Linked DNA regions of Homo sapiens. The protein of the gene in region 2 purifies or fractionates together with the protein of the main gene of each other region. This does not show direct contact. Each region holds a gene or a part of one and is shown on either strand. Other genes may lie near its edges.

What was found. The genes of interacting proteins can lie anywhere in the genome.
Region 1: the proteins of FCRL4 (region 2) and MOCS1 purify together in Homo sapiens (affinity purification with mass spectrometry; 2 studies listed by BioGRID and IntAct, with this or other methods). This does not show direct contact.

The regions. Positions count from the first base shown.
Region 1 is NC_000006.12:39,923,401-39,931,477, forward strand, and holds part of MOCS1 (molybdenum cofactor biosynthesis protein 1), read right to left. Parts: intron 4,317-8,077; exon of another isoform or gene 4,179-4,316; coding exon of another isoform or gene 4,056-4,178; coding exon 3,929-4,055; intron 2,446-3,928; coding exon 2,278-2,445; intron 1-2,277. UniProt on the Homo sapiens protein: Isoform MOCS1A and isoform MOCS1B probably form a complex that catalyzes the conversion of 5'-GTP to cyclic pyranopterin monophosphate (cPMP).
Region 2 is NC_000001.11:157,579,663-157,588,758, forward strand, and holds part of FCRL4 (Fc receptor-like protein 4 precursor), read right to left. Parts: intron 8,458-9,096; coding exon 8,203-8,457; intron 7,899-8,202; coding exon 7,614-7,898; intron 6,794-7,613; coding exon 6,506-6,793; intron 1,983-6,505; coding exon 1,869-1,982; intron 687-1,868; coding exon 659-686; intron 1-658. UniProt on the Homo sapiens protein: May function as an inhibitor of the B-cell receptor signaling. May function in the B-cell-mediated immune response.

The sequences.
Region 1 (8,077 bases), on a different chromosome or scaffold from region 2:
CCCTCTCTGCATGCTGGGGTTTCCCGGGAGAGCCCCGAGTCCTCATACCAGTGCTCAGCCATCCTGTACCTCCCTGACCAGTGAGTGATCCTCATCCCCTCTGCTCTCTCACAGGTCCTGGCACAAGGCGGCCCATGCCCGCGGGTGCCAGGGAGAGGAAGTGGCCTGGATGAGGGGGCTGGGCCTGGCAAGCAGCTGGTTCAGCAGGTTCAGCCCTTTCCTGGCAGCCAGCCTGCCTTTTAGCCCTGAGGAGCTGCCTGGAACATGGGGTCAGCTTGCCTGGGCCAGCTCAGCCAGCACAGGATGACAGAGGTTCCCAGGCCAAGTGACCAGTAGGAGCTGAAGGGAGCTGGCCATGGGGCAGGAGGGAGAAGAGGGCTGTCAGGGGGACCTGGGCCCCTCCTTGGGACTCTCACAGCACCTAGGCTCCCCTTATACAGCAGCTGCTTCCTCCAGTGGGCCACAGGTCCTCAACAGCAGGGCTGGTGCTCATTCATCTTCGTGTGCTCAGCACAGTAGGAGGCATGCAAGAGGGCACTCCAGCGAACAATTACTGAGCTAGAGAGCTGAGGGGCGGGGGGTCCTGTCCAAAGCAGCTGGACGGGGCAGCAATCAAGAACATGGAACCTCATAGCCCCGATTTCATCACCTATAATTACATGAGCAAAGGTCTCTTTCCTGATCTTGGGGTTTAGAAGCTCATGGCAAGAGGCCCTTTAGAGCTACCTTTACAGAGCACTTGCCATAGGCTGGGCATTTCATTCTCATTCCCTCCTCAGGTCAACCTTATAAGGTAGGTACTATCACTGCCTCAAGGCTTAGAACAGATTTTAAAAGTTGCCCAAGGTACGCTTCTTGTAAGAGGCACAGTGGAGACTCAGATAGGAATATGCCGTACTGCAGAGACTACTCTGACCCAGTCTCCATTCATTCAGCGAATTTCAGGGAGCATCAACCACGTGTCAGGCACGGTACTGGATGCCAAAAACAAAACCTGCTCCAGCAACCTGAGAGCTTTCACGCCAGCGAATGCAGGAGACAGACAATTAAAGAAACCAAACACACAACCCAAACACACAGTGCCAGGATGAGATAAATGCTATGAAGCAAAACAAAGTAGGGTAAGTGAGTAGGGCAGGGGTTGCCACACTTTTTCTGTGGAAGTCCAGATAGTAAATATTTTCTACTTGGCTGGCCAGCTTTGCAACACAGTCTTTGTCAACACCATGCAACTCTGCCAAAGCAGCCATGGGCAATATGTAAATGAATGGGCATGGCTATATTCCAATAAAACTCCATTAATAGACACTGAACATATAGGATTTTATAATTTTCGTGTGGTAGAAAATGTTATTATTTTATTTTTTTCCCCATTATTTAGGAGCATAAAAACCATGGCAGGATGCAGTGGCTCACGCCTGTAATCTCAGCACTTTGGGAGGCCGAGGTGTGTGGATCACTTGAGGTCAGGGTTTCGAGACCAGCTTAGCCAACATGGTGAAACCCCGTCTCTGCTAAAAACACAAAAAATTAGCCAGGCATAGCGGTGTGTGCCTGTAAGCCCAGCTACTCTGGAGGCTGAGGAAGGAGAGTCACTTGAACCTGGGAGGTGGAGGTTGCAGTGAGCCGAGATCCTGCCACTGCACTCTAGCCTAGGTGACAGAGCGAGACTCTATCTCAAAAACAAACAAACAAACAAACAACACTCAGTTTGCACGTTAGACAAAAACACATGTCGGCCCAGATTTGGCTGCTATAACTTGCCAATTTCTGGGAAAGAGTGGCTGGTGTGAGTACATGAGGACGCACTTTAGACAGGATGGTTGAGGAAGGCCTTGCTGAGAAGATGACATGTGAACAGAGACCTGAATGAGGTCGAGGAGAGTGCCCTGAGCTCCTAGCAAAGGGAACAGCACATGTCAAGGCCCGGTCATGTGAATGGGAAGGAGGGGAAAGGTGGAGAAGCCTGCAAGGGTTTTGGAGGTCAGCAAGAGCCAGGTCACGTGGGCCTCCTGGAGGACCTTGGTCTCAATGTGACAGCAAGCTACTGAGGTCTGGCATTTGCGAGCTTCCTGACCTTGGGCAAGTTATCCAACCTAAGCCTCATTTTCTCATCAAAAATGGAAATAATAATAGCACCTGTCTCAGCAGGTGTTGTAGGACCAAGAGAGTGTCATGTGCTAAATGAATGTCAGCTGCCACTGTTAACATCGGCATCAGTGTCCAGCCGGATGAGGCAGCGCTGGGAGAAGTGGCGATGACTTTCGTCCAACTCACCCACAATGTCCACCACGTCCGGCCGGATAAGCGGCTCTCCACCTGTGAGCCGGATCTTGTCGATGCCTTCCTTCACAAAGAGCCGGGCGAGGGTCAGGATCTCCTCTGTGGTCAGCAGGTTGGCTTTGGGGGTCAGCGGGACCCCCTCCTCGGGCATGCAGTACTGACCTGAGGGAAGGATGAATGGGAATGTGGAGGGAGGAAAGAGGCACGGCCACAGCCCCGTGATGCCTCCACTCCCCAACTCTCCATCAGGCCAAAGGCTTCTCAAACCCATCTGGATGTGAGCGGAGACCTCACTAAACCTGAGGTGGAAAAACCCCAGGCCAGCATCTCCCCAGGCCTCACCTTTCTCATTTCTGAAACGTTAACACCTTTCCCTATGCCCAACACACACAATCTGGCCATAACATCCCTCAGTGGGAGGCCAAGGGCATGGGTTAGAGATGAAGTAGGCTGAGGGCAGAGCCTGGCCTGACTTCCTGGGCTGAGGGCACCTGGGCAGGGGCGTTCCTCCTGGCATTGTCACCCATCCTCCTGCATTTCACTGGCTATGGCAAACAGGTAGCTTTCTCTCTGTGTGTCATGGGGTGAGAGAGAGGTACTCTCTGGCCTGGCAAAAGCTGCCGTCCTCTGTAGCTACAAGCATTCTCAAATCCACTCTATCTATTTCAGGTTATCATCAGACCCATTTTATATGTTGGAAAACTGAGATACTACTTGTTCATGGTGAGGTATCAGAATGGGGTAAATGAGGTGAGCAGCGGCAGGCTGTGGAAGGGCCACCATCCTCCACCATCACTTCCTGTGGTGCAGTTTCATTAAGGTTTGGGTCAAGATCTGTTAGAGAGTCATGAAGGCAAATTACTCAGTTGGGTCCAGAACCAGTCCTTTGAGACTGAAGAGAATAAGTAAGACTACCAGAATGTAAAGCATATAGTACATCTTGTTTGGTTAAAAAGTTACTAAACATACATGCATGCATTTATTGGGCCATGAAGTAACTTTATTTCTTATCGTGAGGTATAGTGAAAGAAAGTGGGGAGGAAAAGAAGGGGGGGAAGGGGGGAAGGGGAGGGGAAAGTGGGGAGAGGCAGAAGGAAGGAACAGAGGGGAAGGAAGATCAACTTTGGAAGTCCCTCCAGCAGTGGCTACAGATCCAGAGCACTCTTTGGGAGGATTATGAAATGAGGCCTCTTTGTTATTAGCCTAGCCCCAGCTGATTTGTCACGGGACTGGGGCACCTCCAGAGTCAGCAGTGCTGGCATGGGCATGGCTGTCTACTTCAAATGTTTATAATGTCCACCACCCCACCCCTGGCCATGTCCTGGACTTCGGGAACTACAGGGAAACAGGAGGAAGGACCCCTGAAGAATGAGAGGTCCAGGATCCAATCTTAATTCTAAATCCAACTGCATTTATGTTTTCAAATCTAATTCCAAGTAGGACACAGCTTCTATAATCATACAACTCAGCCTTGACCCCTATCTTGCCCCTGAAGCCCACCTGGCCTGGTAAGCAAGGGGTAGCAGGTGAAGAAGTTAGAAAGCAGAACTGGAGGACACAGGAGGATTTCCAGGCACAGGGAAATTTCAAGGGCTGCTTCAGCAGATGGACACCAGCCCAGAGAGGGCCCAGGAAGGTGACTCACATCTGAGGTTGCACTTCTCTGTGAGGGAGATCCGCAGGTAGCTGTGCTGCCGGCCGAAGCTGTCTGTGAGGAAGGCGGAGAAGGGGGCCGCATGCTCCCGCAGGAACTGCCTCCGCCTGGACACCTCCTGCGAGGACAGACCAGGGAGGAAGCATGGGCCCCTGCTACCGGGCTGGGAAGAGGCACAAGGAGAACCGCCTGCCCCCTCCCTTACTCTGACATCTGTGCGGAGCTTCCAACTCTTCCACATGTTTGGGCTCTGCAATGTTGGGGAAGCTGGGATTGTCCCTCTCGTTGAGAAATCAGCTTGATGGGAAGGACCCACCCCTTAAGTATTCAGCTTGGGGGTCGGGGGCGGATGGTGATCTCTACTGGGAAGATTTCTGGCTGGGCAGCAAGGTGGAGGCAAGGGTGTGGGGAAATCTATTAGCCCTTATTCTTCACTCTAGCCAGTGCCAAAAAAAGGATTGTGCACCCATGGTCTCGGGCATAAATGAGAAGAGACTGCTGAAGGCCACAAGCAAGGCCCAAACCCGTCCTGCAGAGAGAAAGGAGGGAGCCGGCTTCACTCTTTCCCATGTACAAGTCTGATCTAGTCTGATCCGTCTCCCCCTGACCTATCGGTCCTTGGAGAGTACAACCTGGGTCCCGACAGATGCTGATGAGATAATTGCTCCAAGGAAGTAGCATTTACCAAGCATCTTAAAGTTTCCAAAGAACGTTCTGTTTCATTCCCACACCCACTCCACAAGGGATTATTATAACTAAGGCTTGGATGGGGTCCAAGAACACCCTCGGCAGAAGCAGGATTCAAATCCAGGTCTTCTGATTCCAGGTTCTTTTTTTTTTTTTTTGAGATGGAGTCTCGCTCTTTTGCCCAGGCTGGAGTGCAGTAGCGCGATCTTGGCTCACTGCAAACTCCACCTCCCAGATTCATGCCATTCTCCTGCCTCAGTCTCCCAAGTAGCTGGGACTACAGGCACCCGCCACTGCACCCGGCTAATTTTTTGTATCTTTAGTAGAGACGGGGTTTCGCTGTGTTAGCCAGGATGGTCTCGATCTCCTGACCTCGTGATCCACCTGCCTTGGCCCCCCAAAGTGCTGGGATTACAGGCATGAGCCACCACACCCGACCCTGATTCCAGGTTCTAAATTACTCCCTTCTATCACAGAGAGAGTCCAAGAAGATAGGGAGGATGACAACTAGGGTGGGTAGAAGTCACTTCTCTAGAATATTTCAGACAAAAAAATCACGACCCTGGAAGTCATGCATGAGATCTACAGACAAGGTTCTGGAATGGGAATAAGAAACCCTGGTTTCTGCAGTAGGTATGACCTGGTACACTGTGAAAGTCCCTTAACTTCTCCAGGCCTGCTTTCCCAGTTGTAAAATAAGAATACAGCTACAGGCTAAGGTTGTCTTGCTAGGAGTAAAGACAGGGGTGGAGTGGTAGTGGTGGTATCAGAAGATGGTAGGTGAACACTTAAAATTATGATGAAGAACAGAAGGTCTCAGGCCCTCCAAAGGTCTAGCGCAACTATGCCTACAATTAGGAGGAAGAAGCATTTGCTTCAGTAAGTTCCTCAGCTCCAGCTGCACATTAGAACCATCTGGAGAACTTTAAAAAAACATTCCAGTGGAGACCAACTAAATCTGGATCTCTGAATCTGTTACGTTTTCAATCTCTCCAGGTAATTCTCATCGGCAGCCCTTGACTGGGTCAAGAGCCACTGAGTGGCTCAAAGATAAGAGACATGAGAGTATGTGTGAAGCTGCTCTTGATTTTCTGGGCCCATAAAACATTCCTCACTCTACCCACCGCGGGAGAATTTCCCACCTCCTCTGAGAAGCCCTGCTCACCATCCTGTGGGGAGTAAGCAGCAGTCACTTCTCTAACTGCCGTCTGCTATAATCACAACAGTCACTTCCTCCCTCCCTGCGGTATGATGGAGAAAACTCAAACTCAACCCATTGCCTTTCCACAGATAGCCTCAGGGTTGGGGCGGGGAGCACTCCATAATCAAGAATCCCATCAGCCACCGGAGTCCAGATGAGATACCTGGGAATCTGGATGTATTGCAGTGCTGTGCCCTCTTTTTCATCAACAGCTATTTGCAATTCAGTCATGTTAGTCACCCTAGATTCTGCCTCTTCACTTGCCAAGATACCCCCCCTCAACCCAGTCTTGACATGATGGGGGGATGGGGTGGCTGGATGGGGGAGGAGTCAAAATACATCAAAGAATTGGAAGTTGAGAGGACCAAGGAGCATTATTCAGCAGAAACCTGAGAGCAAGCAGTGTGATGGAGCAATCAAGAATGGAATTAGGGGCCGGGTGTGGTGGTTCACGCCTGGAATCCCAGCACTTTGGGAGGCCGAGGAGGGCAGATCATTTGAGGCCAGGAGTGTGAGACTAGCCTGGGCAACATGGCAAAACCCCGTCTCTACTAAAAAATACAAAAGTTAGCTGGCTGTGGTGGCGCGAGTCTGTAATCCCAGCTACTCGGGAGGCTGAGGCAAGAGAATCGCTTGAACCCAGAAGGCAGATGTGGCAGTCAGCCAAGATCGCACCACTGTACTCCAGCCTGGGCAACAGAGCGAGATTCTCTCAAAAAAAAAAAAAAAAAAAAAAATGGAATTTGGTGCTTTTGTTCTGGCAATGGGAGAGGCTGGTCAGATTTCACTTTTAAGAACTTCTGTGACCTTGTCTAGACTTATGCAGACTGCACCACCCGTTCTGAACCCAGCCTCCTAAACACACACACTCTCACCCTGCCAGCAATGCAAACTCATTACTCAGATATTAACGAGCCCCATTCCTGCATCTTCTCTCCTCTAACACTGCATGCCCTACTTTCATTCTTCTACTTTTTTCCCTGTCCCTTAAGTCTCCTGGAGGAAAAAAATATCAGCACCAGTCAAAGGAGCCCAAGATTCAGAGGGAATTATAGGACAGAGTAGACAGCAACCCTGCTTGCTCAGGAGGGCTGGGACATGCCAGAAGTAGTAGGAAGCACTCAACGGATCATATTCCCAGGGTCCCAGGCTGGCCTGGGCTGTTTCCTCTCCGTGAGAAGTCATTCTGCCTGATTCAGTATCCCCAGTGTCTAGCACAGGATGTTGGTACATTTTGAATCACATGAACAAATAGTCCTGTCCCTAATGTAAGCAGAAAGGTCGTATATGCAAAAGCCAGTTACATGGGGGTAATCATTTCCCGGCTGGTCTCTACTGTCAAAATGGTTTAACCTGGTATAGTGGTTTGAAACCCTGGCAGCCCATCAAAATCACTCAAGGAGCTTCAAGAAGGATTCTAGTTTCAAGAAGGAGCTAGAATCTGTCCCAAAGATTCTAGCTCAATCTAGTGCCTCAGCTGTGCAGCCAGGGCTGAGAACCATCGGCCTAGTGACACCAAGTGCCAGGTGCTATTTTAATCCAGGGCAAGTTGTTGTGGTTCTGAGCACAGGATTTGGAGTAGGTGAGCCTATATTACAAGCCTGGCTCTAGCTGTTGAGCAAGTCACCTAAATTCTCGAAACCTTAGTTTCCTCATCTATGCAGTGGAAATAATAATCCAACCTAACTCAGTTGGAGGAGTTCCTGGCACCGAGGTTTTCATTCAGTGATCCATGGAGGAACACTGTTGTGTGCTGTGATCAGTTTTTCTAGTTTGTCAGCTTCCCTTCCCTTCCAAGACCCTGGCCTTCCAACCCTACTAACAGCAGATGGCCAGAGGCAGGGTTTCAAAGCTGCTGCCACACCACCCAAGTGGGGTCTGAGCATCCCCAGGACCACCAATACTGGTGTGCATCAGCAGGCACTAAGCAGCCTGCCAGACACTACTGGTCATCTCATGTCTACCCAATGCAGATTAGGGTGAAGGGGGTGGGGAAGGGTGGGACAAAAGAGTTAAAGCGGGACCCTGCCCTCAAGGTGCCCTCCTCTACTAGTCACTCATCTTAGGCATCTGATTTGACTGCTAAAGGCTAGCCCTCAAATAGCTCCAAAGTCTAAACAGAGCAGCAGGGTTATTCGAGAGGAAAAAAAGCACATTCCAAATCTAAGTATCGTGGCCCTGATTTACCCTGCTATTGGGATGATGTATACTAAGGGTCTCTTAAAATTAATCTCTTTTAAATGAGAGGACCC
Region 2 (9,096 bases):
GCTAAGATCGTGCCACTGCACTCCAGCCTGGGTGACAATACATACATACATACATACATACATACATACATACATACATACATACATAAAATGTCTTTACATTGTAATGTCTGTACAATCCAAGAAGGAATTAGACATAATCCACACTCTTATTCCTTACCTAAGACTGAGACACTGACATAGAAGGAGGAAGATGACAGTATTTTCCAAATGGAAGTTAAGCACATAACGTTTAATGAGTATATATGCGTGTATGGTGCAAAAAGAAGATTATTAGAAACATAGAGTTCTCTGGAAAACCTAGAACATTTGTAGAAAATCTAGACTCTAGTCATTGTATGCATAATTATAGTAACACATTGTCTAACTTAATTATAGTACAAGAAATATTCTGTACTTTATAACCTTTGGTATTATCCATTTAGATGAGTAGGTTAAGATCAAATAAGAAATCTATTATTTTGCATGTATTGCAAACTATTAGCTGACAAGCAAAGTTCTAGGAAGCTTCATTTTTGACAAATTCATGGAGTGTGAAAATGGAAGTATCTAGCCACAGGGCCAAAGAGGTATAACTTGACCTAATTTCATAACCCCACAGTTTTGCATATTGTGTACTCGGGAAACTAAAAAGGAATGGCAGAAACTGAGGTCTCACCTGGTTTCGTCTCCCAAGAAACCAACTCCTGCAAAATAAAGCAAAGACGCATTTTTGTCAGCAGAGGGAGCTCTTTCTCAATGACTTCATGTAACAGGAGCTATCTAAGAGAGGTAATCAAGACAGTCAATTCAAACACCTGCCCAGTCCTGGGTTTTCATGAAAATGAGGTGAAAAAAAGATTGTACAAAGCATATAACTTTTTGAGGCCAGGACTGCACACTCCTGAGTTAAGTATGTAATTGTCTGAGAATTTATTAAGACTCAAGTCTGTGTTGAAATCCCTCAGGAAACATTACATATAACAAAAGTGTCACTTGGAGAGTAGTGAGCTGTGGGTGAACTTCGAGGAACATCTGTGGCCATGCCCAGAGGAGCACTGGGCTCTGACTCAGCCCCACTAAGGAGAATTGGTCAGAGGTCCAAAGCTCCCTACCTCCAGTTCAATGCAGGACACACAGAAGGTGCTGTCAGGAATCTGGAAAGTTGAATTGAATTAAGAGACAGAGTTGAAGGATGTGGGTAATTATTCTAGAGCTGAAAAAGGTTCTGCTCCTGTCTTCTACACCAGGTTTCTTGGCATCTAAAGCCAGCCTGAGGTGGGCTGAGGCAAGAAGTCTTTGGAAGCACGCAGCAAACAGTGCCTGGGACAGACCATCTCCAAGAGGCAGGGGAGGCTGACCTGAGGAGAGAGGGGCCACTGGAGCACCAGATGGCAGGCTCAAGCCTGCTCAGAAAAGCCCCTGAAAAGCCAGACCCAGAAAAGCCCCTGAGGGGACAGAAGGATAAAATTAGCCAGCTCTTATTCTCAATCATTTCTGCAGAGCCTTTAGTTCATTCTGAATCTCCATTTATGGTGGATTTAGGATAGGCTGAAGTATCTAACTGGCCAGTCTATATGAACCAAAGAAACTGCCTAAGTAAACTGTTCAGATAAAGTTTTTGGAACTTTACATTAAAAATTTCACTCTTCCTCCCCTTCACTGAGACTTAGCCAATCAGACTAGATATGAGCAGCTCTCATTCATGGCTTCTGTTTGCAAAACTGCCCCTTAAGGAAGGGACGGACGTGAGTGTGTGTGAACGCTGGGAGTGGAGACTTGGGAGTGGAGACTTGGGAGTGGTGGCCTGGTGGCCACTAAGGCTGTCTGCATGCTGAGTTCAGGGGAAGGAACAGGGCAGGAACTGTGGCAAAGAAAAGAGCACAAACCTGACTTCCTCCGACGCCAGCAGTGAAACAGCAGGGCCACAGCCAGGAGAAGAGCACTGAGCAGCCCTCCAGTGGCTCCCGCGGCGACAAGGCCATCTCTGTTGCCTGGGGTCTCTAAGGGGAAAGGACCTGTGTGAATCTCAGTGGAGAGGTTCAGGGTTTGGGATTGCCTTTTCCTCAGCTTGGTTGGGTAACGAGCCCTGGAAGAGAGAAAAATCTAAAGGACTAGGTCTCATAAAGACATCTTGGGCCAGGTTTTGGCCAGAAAAGCTCACATTGGGTGGGCCAGGGCCTGAGTGCAAGAGGAAACAGCAGCTCCCTCTACCTTCAGTGAATCATTTTAGAAACTAACAATTTAGGGGAAATCCTAATGTTGTATTCTGGTAAGCTGGCTTCCTGCAAATTGCCCCCAGACACCTGGAGAGATACTGTGGGATCATGGCTTGGCAGCACCTAACTTAGGAACAGCAAACTGCCTGAGAGAGAATGAAAATTGCACCACTGATTATGGCACCAGTTGAACCAACAGTAACTCTGAGATTGCTCCGCATTGGGACACCACGATGAAATGGCATCAGCCTCCTTCCTCATAGAAGCCTGTGCCTGTGTGCTCTGAAGGGCAGGAGAGAAAAAAACGGATGGAAAAGTACACATAATCAATAAATTGTTAGGGGCTTTTGATATTTCCATGGGGTCCGTTCTCCTATCCTTTCATCCACGGAAAAGGAGGTTTCATTCAATTTACTTATTTATACAACAAATATTTACTGAGGCTGCCCTGTGCTGGGCATTGACCTAACCCTTGAAGACCCAAGAGTGAACAAGACGTTAAAGTCCCGGCTCTTGAGTTTATAACCCAGGGAGGGGAGACAAGCCATAAACAAATAAATAAATTTATACCGTGCCCTGTAGTGATGCGCTAAAGAGCAAAAAGCATGACAGAGGGACAGAGAGTGGAGAGTGGGGCGTGGTACTTTCCCATATGTATTCTTGGTCCCCAGGTAAACCAAATTCAGACCTCAGACACAGGTACCACAGAATTGACAGAGAACATGCAGGTAGTAGAACAACAGCAACACTGATCATGATTTCCGTTTATTTTCATCTATGATTTTGGGCACAGAGGAGCCATTGGCTAGGAGTGGCTGGTGACATTTCTGATATTATCCTTCCCTCCTCAACAATATCAACAAACCTGCCCTTTGACCTATGAGTGGTTCCACTAATAAACAGTATTCAGTGGACAGCCAGCCCAGCTTCCCAGCCACAACAGCTGAAAGAGTACGGTGGAGAGCAGGACAGAAATCTAAGGACAGAGAGGCTTGGCCACTACATCCTGTATTGAATCTTTCCCCATTGCCTGCTGGGGCATCCGCCGGTGCAAAATCAGAATCAGCCACACCCAGGCCTAGGATTCTAGACTCAAAGGGCAGAAAGCAAGTTACTCTACCTTCCTGGTAACCCTATTTCCTAAAAGAAATGGCTACTTTGGGGAAAGTAATTGAAATTTTGTCTCAGTTAGAAAGGCACAGATTCTAAATCCAGGTTGTTGGATTAGAATCCCAGCTCCTCAACTTACTCACTGTGTGGGCAGGGAAAATTATTTAATCTCCCTTTGCCTCAGTTTCCTATTTACTGTTGTAAATGAGTTAATACATGTAAAGTGCTTTGAACAGTGCCTGCCACTTAAGTGTTACGTCTAGGGAAATACTAGTTCATATTTTGTGGTCCTGACACCATGCCCTAGACTCTCAGGAAATTCAGGCTGCTCTCTGATTAGCTTAGAGGACACCTCCATAGGTTAAGCCTGCTCCCACACAGCCCTACCCCAGACATCCTCAGTCCATGCTATGGATTGATTTGTGCCCTTCTCCCCCAGATTCATACGCTGAAGCTCTAACCCCAATGTGATGGTATTTGGAGACAGGGCCTTTGAGAGGTAATCAGATTTAGATGAAATCATGAGGGTGGGGCCCCAAAGATAGGATTAGTGCCCTTCTAAGAAGAAACACCAGAAAGGTTGTGCTGCTCTCTCTCTCTGCCATGTAAGGACACAGCAAGCAGGTAGCCTTCTGTAAGCCAGAAAGAGAGCCCTCACAAGAATCCAAATTATATTAGTGCACTAATCCCAGACTTCCAGCCTCCAGAACTATGAGGAAATAGATTTCTGTTTTTTAAGCTCCCCAGTCCCTGGTGTTTGGTTATGGCAGTTCAAGCTGCCTGAGACAGCCCACCTTAGCCCAGTGCATGAGGCTACTGCAGAGTTTCTCTCTTTGCTATATATTCTCCTATTTCTAAGCACGGGGATTTTGCATAAAGTCCATGATTAAAAAATATTTAGGAGGGAATCCCTATTCCAGCAAACATCACTGGATCCTTGACGTTTGTTTAATCTTTGAGATCATCTGTTTCCTTAACAGATGTTGACACCTGCTTTCCAGGGCTGTCATGAGAATAAAATGAAATGATACATGTGAAGTGGCCAGTTCACTGCCTGGATCAGGAGAAGCTGATCCATTCTGATGATCTTAACCCCCAAAAGGAAGAGGAATAATTTATACTTACCAACAGATTCACTGTTATCTCCTCAGAGATTATAATCTTTGAACTTCCTGAGGTAAACTTTTCAGAATAAGAGCCTTCCTGCAGAAGAAACACCCTCTACCATCAGTGTTACTCTGGATTTCAGGGCATTCAGGAGTCTTTCGAGGGAGCCCTTGGCAGCTTGCAGTTTTGCTAATCCCTTCTTCCTCTCCCCTAATCTGATTCTTGAAATGCCATTGAGCCCTGGAATTCAAGACCAGACTGGGCAACGTAGTGAGAACCTTTCTCTATGAAAAATAAATTAAAAAAAAAATAGCTGGCCATGGTGGCACATGCCTGTAGTCCCAGCTATTTGAGAGGCTGAGGTGGGAGGATCGCTTGAACCCAGAAGGTCAAGGCTGCAGTGAGCCAAGATCACGCCACTGAACTCCACTCTGGACAACAGAGAGAGACCCCATCTTAAAAAAAAAAAAAAGTCATTGAAATGACATTAGCTCAGTCTCAGTCCTTCTCTGCTGGGAATTACACCCAGTGATGTTCCCAGACTGAGATGCAGATTGCTGTGGTACTTAGTTCTGGGGAAACACCTCAGTCTCTTAACCTGGTGGGCCCTGCTTGATCATAAGACTTGCCTCAAGGGAGTTGAAGGGAAAGTTGAGCCGCATCTGGGCCATTCGCATAGCAACCCCTTGCTGGAGCCTCTGACTAAACTGTTCAGGTTTATGGCTTTGACCGTCAGAGCTGACTTTGTATAAACAGTGCAGCTGTTTTTGGGGAGCAGTCCCCAAAATTTAGAAGTTGGAAATATTATAAGGATCTGGAAAGAAAACTTTAAAAAAGTATCTGCTGAATAGATAGAATACTAACAGGTTATGTCCCAGAAATTGAGCAGGAAAATGTTTCAAGAAGGAGGGAGGGATCAATTGTATCAAAAGCTGGAGGTAGGTCAAATCAAATGGGAACAGTTTTCCACTGGCCTTAGAAATATGGAGATCATTAGTAATTTTGGTGGAGTGAGGCAAGCCTGGTGGTGATGGGTTTAAGAAAAAATCAGGGAGGTAAGGAGAGTGAATTGAGGAGTTTTATTGTATAGAAAAGCAGGGAAATCTAGCTTTCCAGTAACTTAATAAAAGCTAGATTCTTCCTTTCTTTCCTCTTTCCTTTCTTTCCTTTCCTTTCTTTCCTTTCTTTCCTTCCTTTCCTTCCTTTCCCTCTTTCTTTCTTTCTCTTTCCTCCTTTCCTTCCTTCCTTCTCTCTTTCTTTCTCTCTCTCTTTCTTTCTTTCTTTCTTTCTTTCTTTCTTTCTTTCTTTCTTTCTTTCCTTCTTTCTTTCTTTCTTTCTTTCTTTCCTTTTTCAGAGAGACAGGAATACAACTAAACCTGAGATTGAGGAGGAATTGAAGCCCAGTAAAGACCACTTCCTTAGTGCCAAGGTAGCTGAGTGAGAACATAGCTTGGCCCAGTGTGGCTTCTCAGCGATGGAGGAAGAGATGTATATGAGCTAAACCTGTGATATCCCAAAGTAAGGCTTCTCTCCTCAATGGACAAAAGTGGGCTCTGTATCTGCTCTCCCTGCTTCTTGTGAGTTTCCTGACCCACATACAATTTGGCTGCTGAGAATCCCTCAGGATTCTATTATAGTAATGAAGTAAAGGAATGCCTTGTGCTTTTGGTTCTGTGGACTTGAGGCTGCAGGTCTGATGTGTGTGGTGTGTGTGAATGATTTACTGAAAGGAGAGGTGTAGTTGATACTGTAGGATGACACGGTAGGGTGACAGAGCTGTGCCCCACCCAGAAACACTGCTAATGAAGTAAGGCTCCTCTTGGAGATAAACACACAATGGACCCAAACACAGACAAACAAAATCACCTCCAAAAAGCAAAATGGCTCCCAGCCACCATTACCTCACTACAGGACCTTACTCTGACCTGAGTGAGTTATTACTATTCTAATGGAAGAAATTGTTTATCACAGTGGAGCATGGCAAAATGGAAACAGAAACAGCAGAGTCACAGGGTAATGTTAGCTATCCCCACCCTTAATTTGAGGAAGTTTGCTGAGAATAAATAAGGTCAATAGAGATTAAAACTCACCTCTCACAGTGACATTCAGCACCATGCTCTGGACAGGGCCGTAGCTGTTGTCTGCTGTACAGTAGTATCCCCCTGCATGGCTCTGTCTGATGGCAGGGAGCTCCAGCTCTGCTCTCAGGGAACGCTGAGTTTTCCTCCCCAGACTCTCCTGCATGTCCTCTCGGTGCCAGGAGAATGTGGTATCCCCTGTGCCTTCAGCCACGGAGCAGACAAGGACCAGCATCTCCCCTTCAACAGCCTGGCCCCCTGAGGGCTGGGTCTCCAGGAGCACCCCAGACACAGGGATCCCTATGTGAAAATGAGACCACAGGTGGGGGTCGGGTGTGAAGGAGGGCAGGGCTAGGTAGCTGGGGTGTTGGGCAGGGTTACTTTTTATGTGACTTCAAGATATACTCTTCAGCAGGCACTAGCATTGTGGCCAATAGACCACAGATTTAGCGCTGAGAATATCACTAAATGTGATAAGCTTTCCATCCTGATATACGAGGCCCCAGGAAAGAAAAAAGGACTAACCCTGAAGAAGCATTTGGGTTTTGTCTGACATCCTGGCTGGAGGTCTGAGTTGTTTTGAGGGGCAGGTAATAGCAATAGCAGCCATCATGGCACTAGGCTGGACCACATCTGTTTTCAAAAGTCATAATTTTGTACCTAAGTGATATTTATTGGGCCTATCTATCTATCTATCTCTCCTTCTTTTCTGCTGTACACATCATAGGCACTCACACTGTTCATTGCTACTGACCAGGAAAAGGTGGATGCTTGTCTTCTAAATAGTTATCCTTAAGATCTAGCCATTCTAGAATCTGCCAAATCCCTAGCAGGGCACCTCATTTTCTTGTTTTGTTTTGTTTTCCATAGCTCTCAAACCTAACTCCATGAGTCAGCTGTGATTCTGAAGTGATAGAATTTCAAAGGAAGACTGAGTTTTTAGGAAAATGGAGGTAGAAAAGAAGTCATGTATTTCTTTTATTATAGTACTGCACTTCTTGGCCTAAGCCTGGTGCCTCTGTCAGGATGATAAAACCCATCTCTGCTACATAGTCCCCATGCCTACAGAGCCCAAGGGGCAGAGAGAGGCAGGGAAGATGCCTGGCTCTCCAACACTCACGCTGCACATGGATCTGTAGCGAGGGACTGTGCTTGTGGATGTTACCCCTCACTGTTTCAGCACCACACCAATAGGATCCTGAGTTTTCTCTCCAGACGGTTGGGAGCTGGAGTTCCGGGTACGTGCTCCAGTCTGACAGGATGACCTCGCCATCTCTGAAGAAGTTGAAGTGAAGTGGGGTGTCTGACCGCTCTGGAGGAAGCTGTGTTTCACAGCTCAGGTTTACAGAATTCCCCTCTGTAGGCTGAGAGTCTGTAGCTTTCAGCTCTGGATGTGGAAATAGTTCTAGAGAGAAGAGGTAAGTCAAGTTCTGAGCACGAGAGTATTTAGGACTCTGTGAGAGACAGGTTTGGATGCTCAGTCCCAGGAAACTTCAGACACACAGCAAGACAAACTTATCAAGCCCTCTATCACAGTTTTCTTCTACAGGATTATTCAGGTCCAATCACCCCACTTTCTCTGCCTCTTAGAGGATTTGTGCCTCTCATCTATCCAGAGTTTCAATAGTAACCCGTAAATTCTTTCCTTACATGCTCAGTTTCCTATCCCTGTCATTACTAAGCAAATCTATATGAACTGAAAGATTCACCTTGAATTTTAATTATTTTGAAATTTGATCTAAATACATCATTCTCGTCTCCATATCCAATGCATCGATAATTGCCATTGTTATTTGAACTTGCTTGTGGGATAAGAAGATCCCAGCTTTTATTAGAAATGGAAAGAATGTTTCCATTCCAAGTATATTTCACAGCAGTCAATTTCTCTTTCCTTCTTCTGTGGCATCTCAGAACCAATGTGTCACCTTCAAACACAGAATATGGTGCCTGCAGGATTAAGGAGTCTGGAAAAGACACAGAGAGGAGATCGTCATTCAAAGCATTCCTGCTATCTCCTTCTTCTCTTGAATTACAAAGGCTTTATTGTTTTCTTCTTTCTTCCACAGGATGTAGTTTCCTGATCCAAGCTCACGAAACTCCTCCTAAATCAGTGTAACATGCTTCAGGTACAATTCCTAAATAAATCCCAGACTCAACTATTTTATCATTCAAAGTCAGATTCCAAAGATAAGGAGTCTAATACGGAGAATAAAAGCTGAGAGAAGGTGTGATCAAAATCTCTGACATGATAGAGTACAGCAGAACTTAACACCAACCTGCTCACCGAGTCTCAGAGCAGGAGCTATGAAAGAAGTGGCACTTAGAGAACTACATGAGGATCTCTTCCTGGACATTGGAGTGTGATTTGTAGCAGGATTCTTGTCAGAGACACAGTCTAGGTTGAAGGGACAGTGGATGTGGTCCTTTATGGGAATTCCATGCTGTTCATATTCTAATAATTCTAATTTGAGGTTAGCTATATCTCTTCTTTCTTAGATGACTGTGTTGAATGCCTACTCCTGTAGTCCGTGCCCTTGGAAGTGACCAAAATCATTATCCATCAGGTAAAACTGGACAGGAGGAGCTGTGGGAGCTTGATGCCA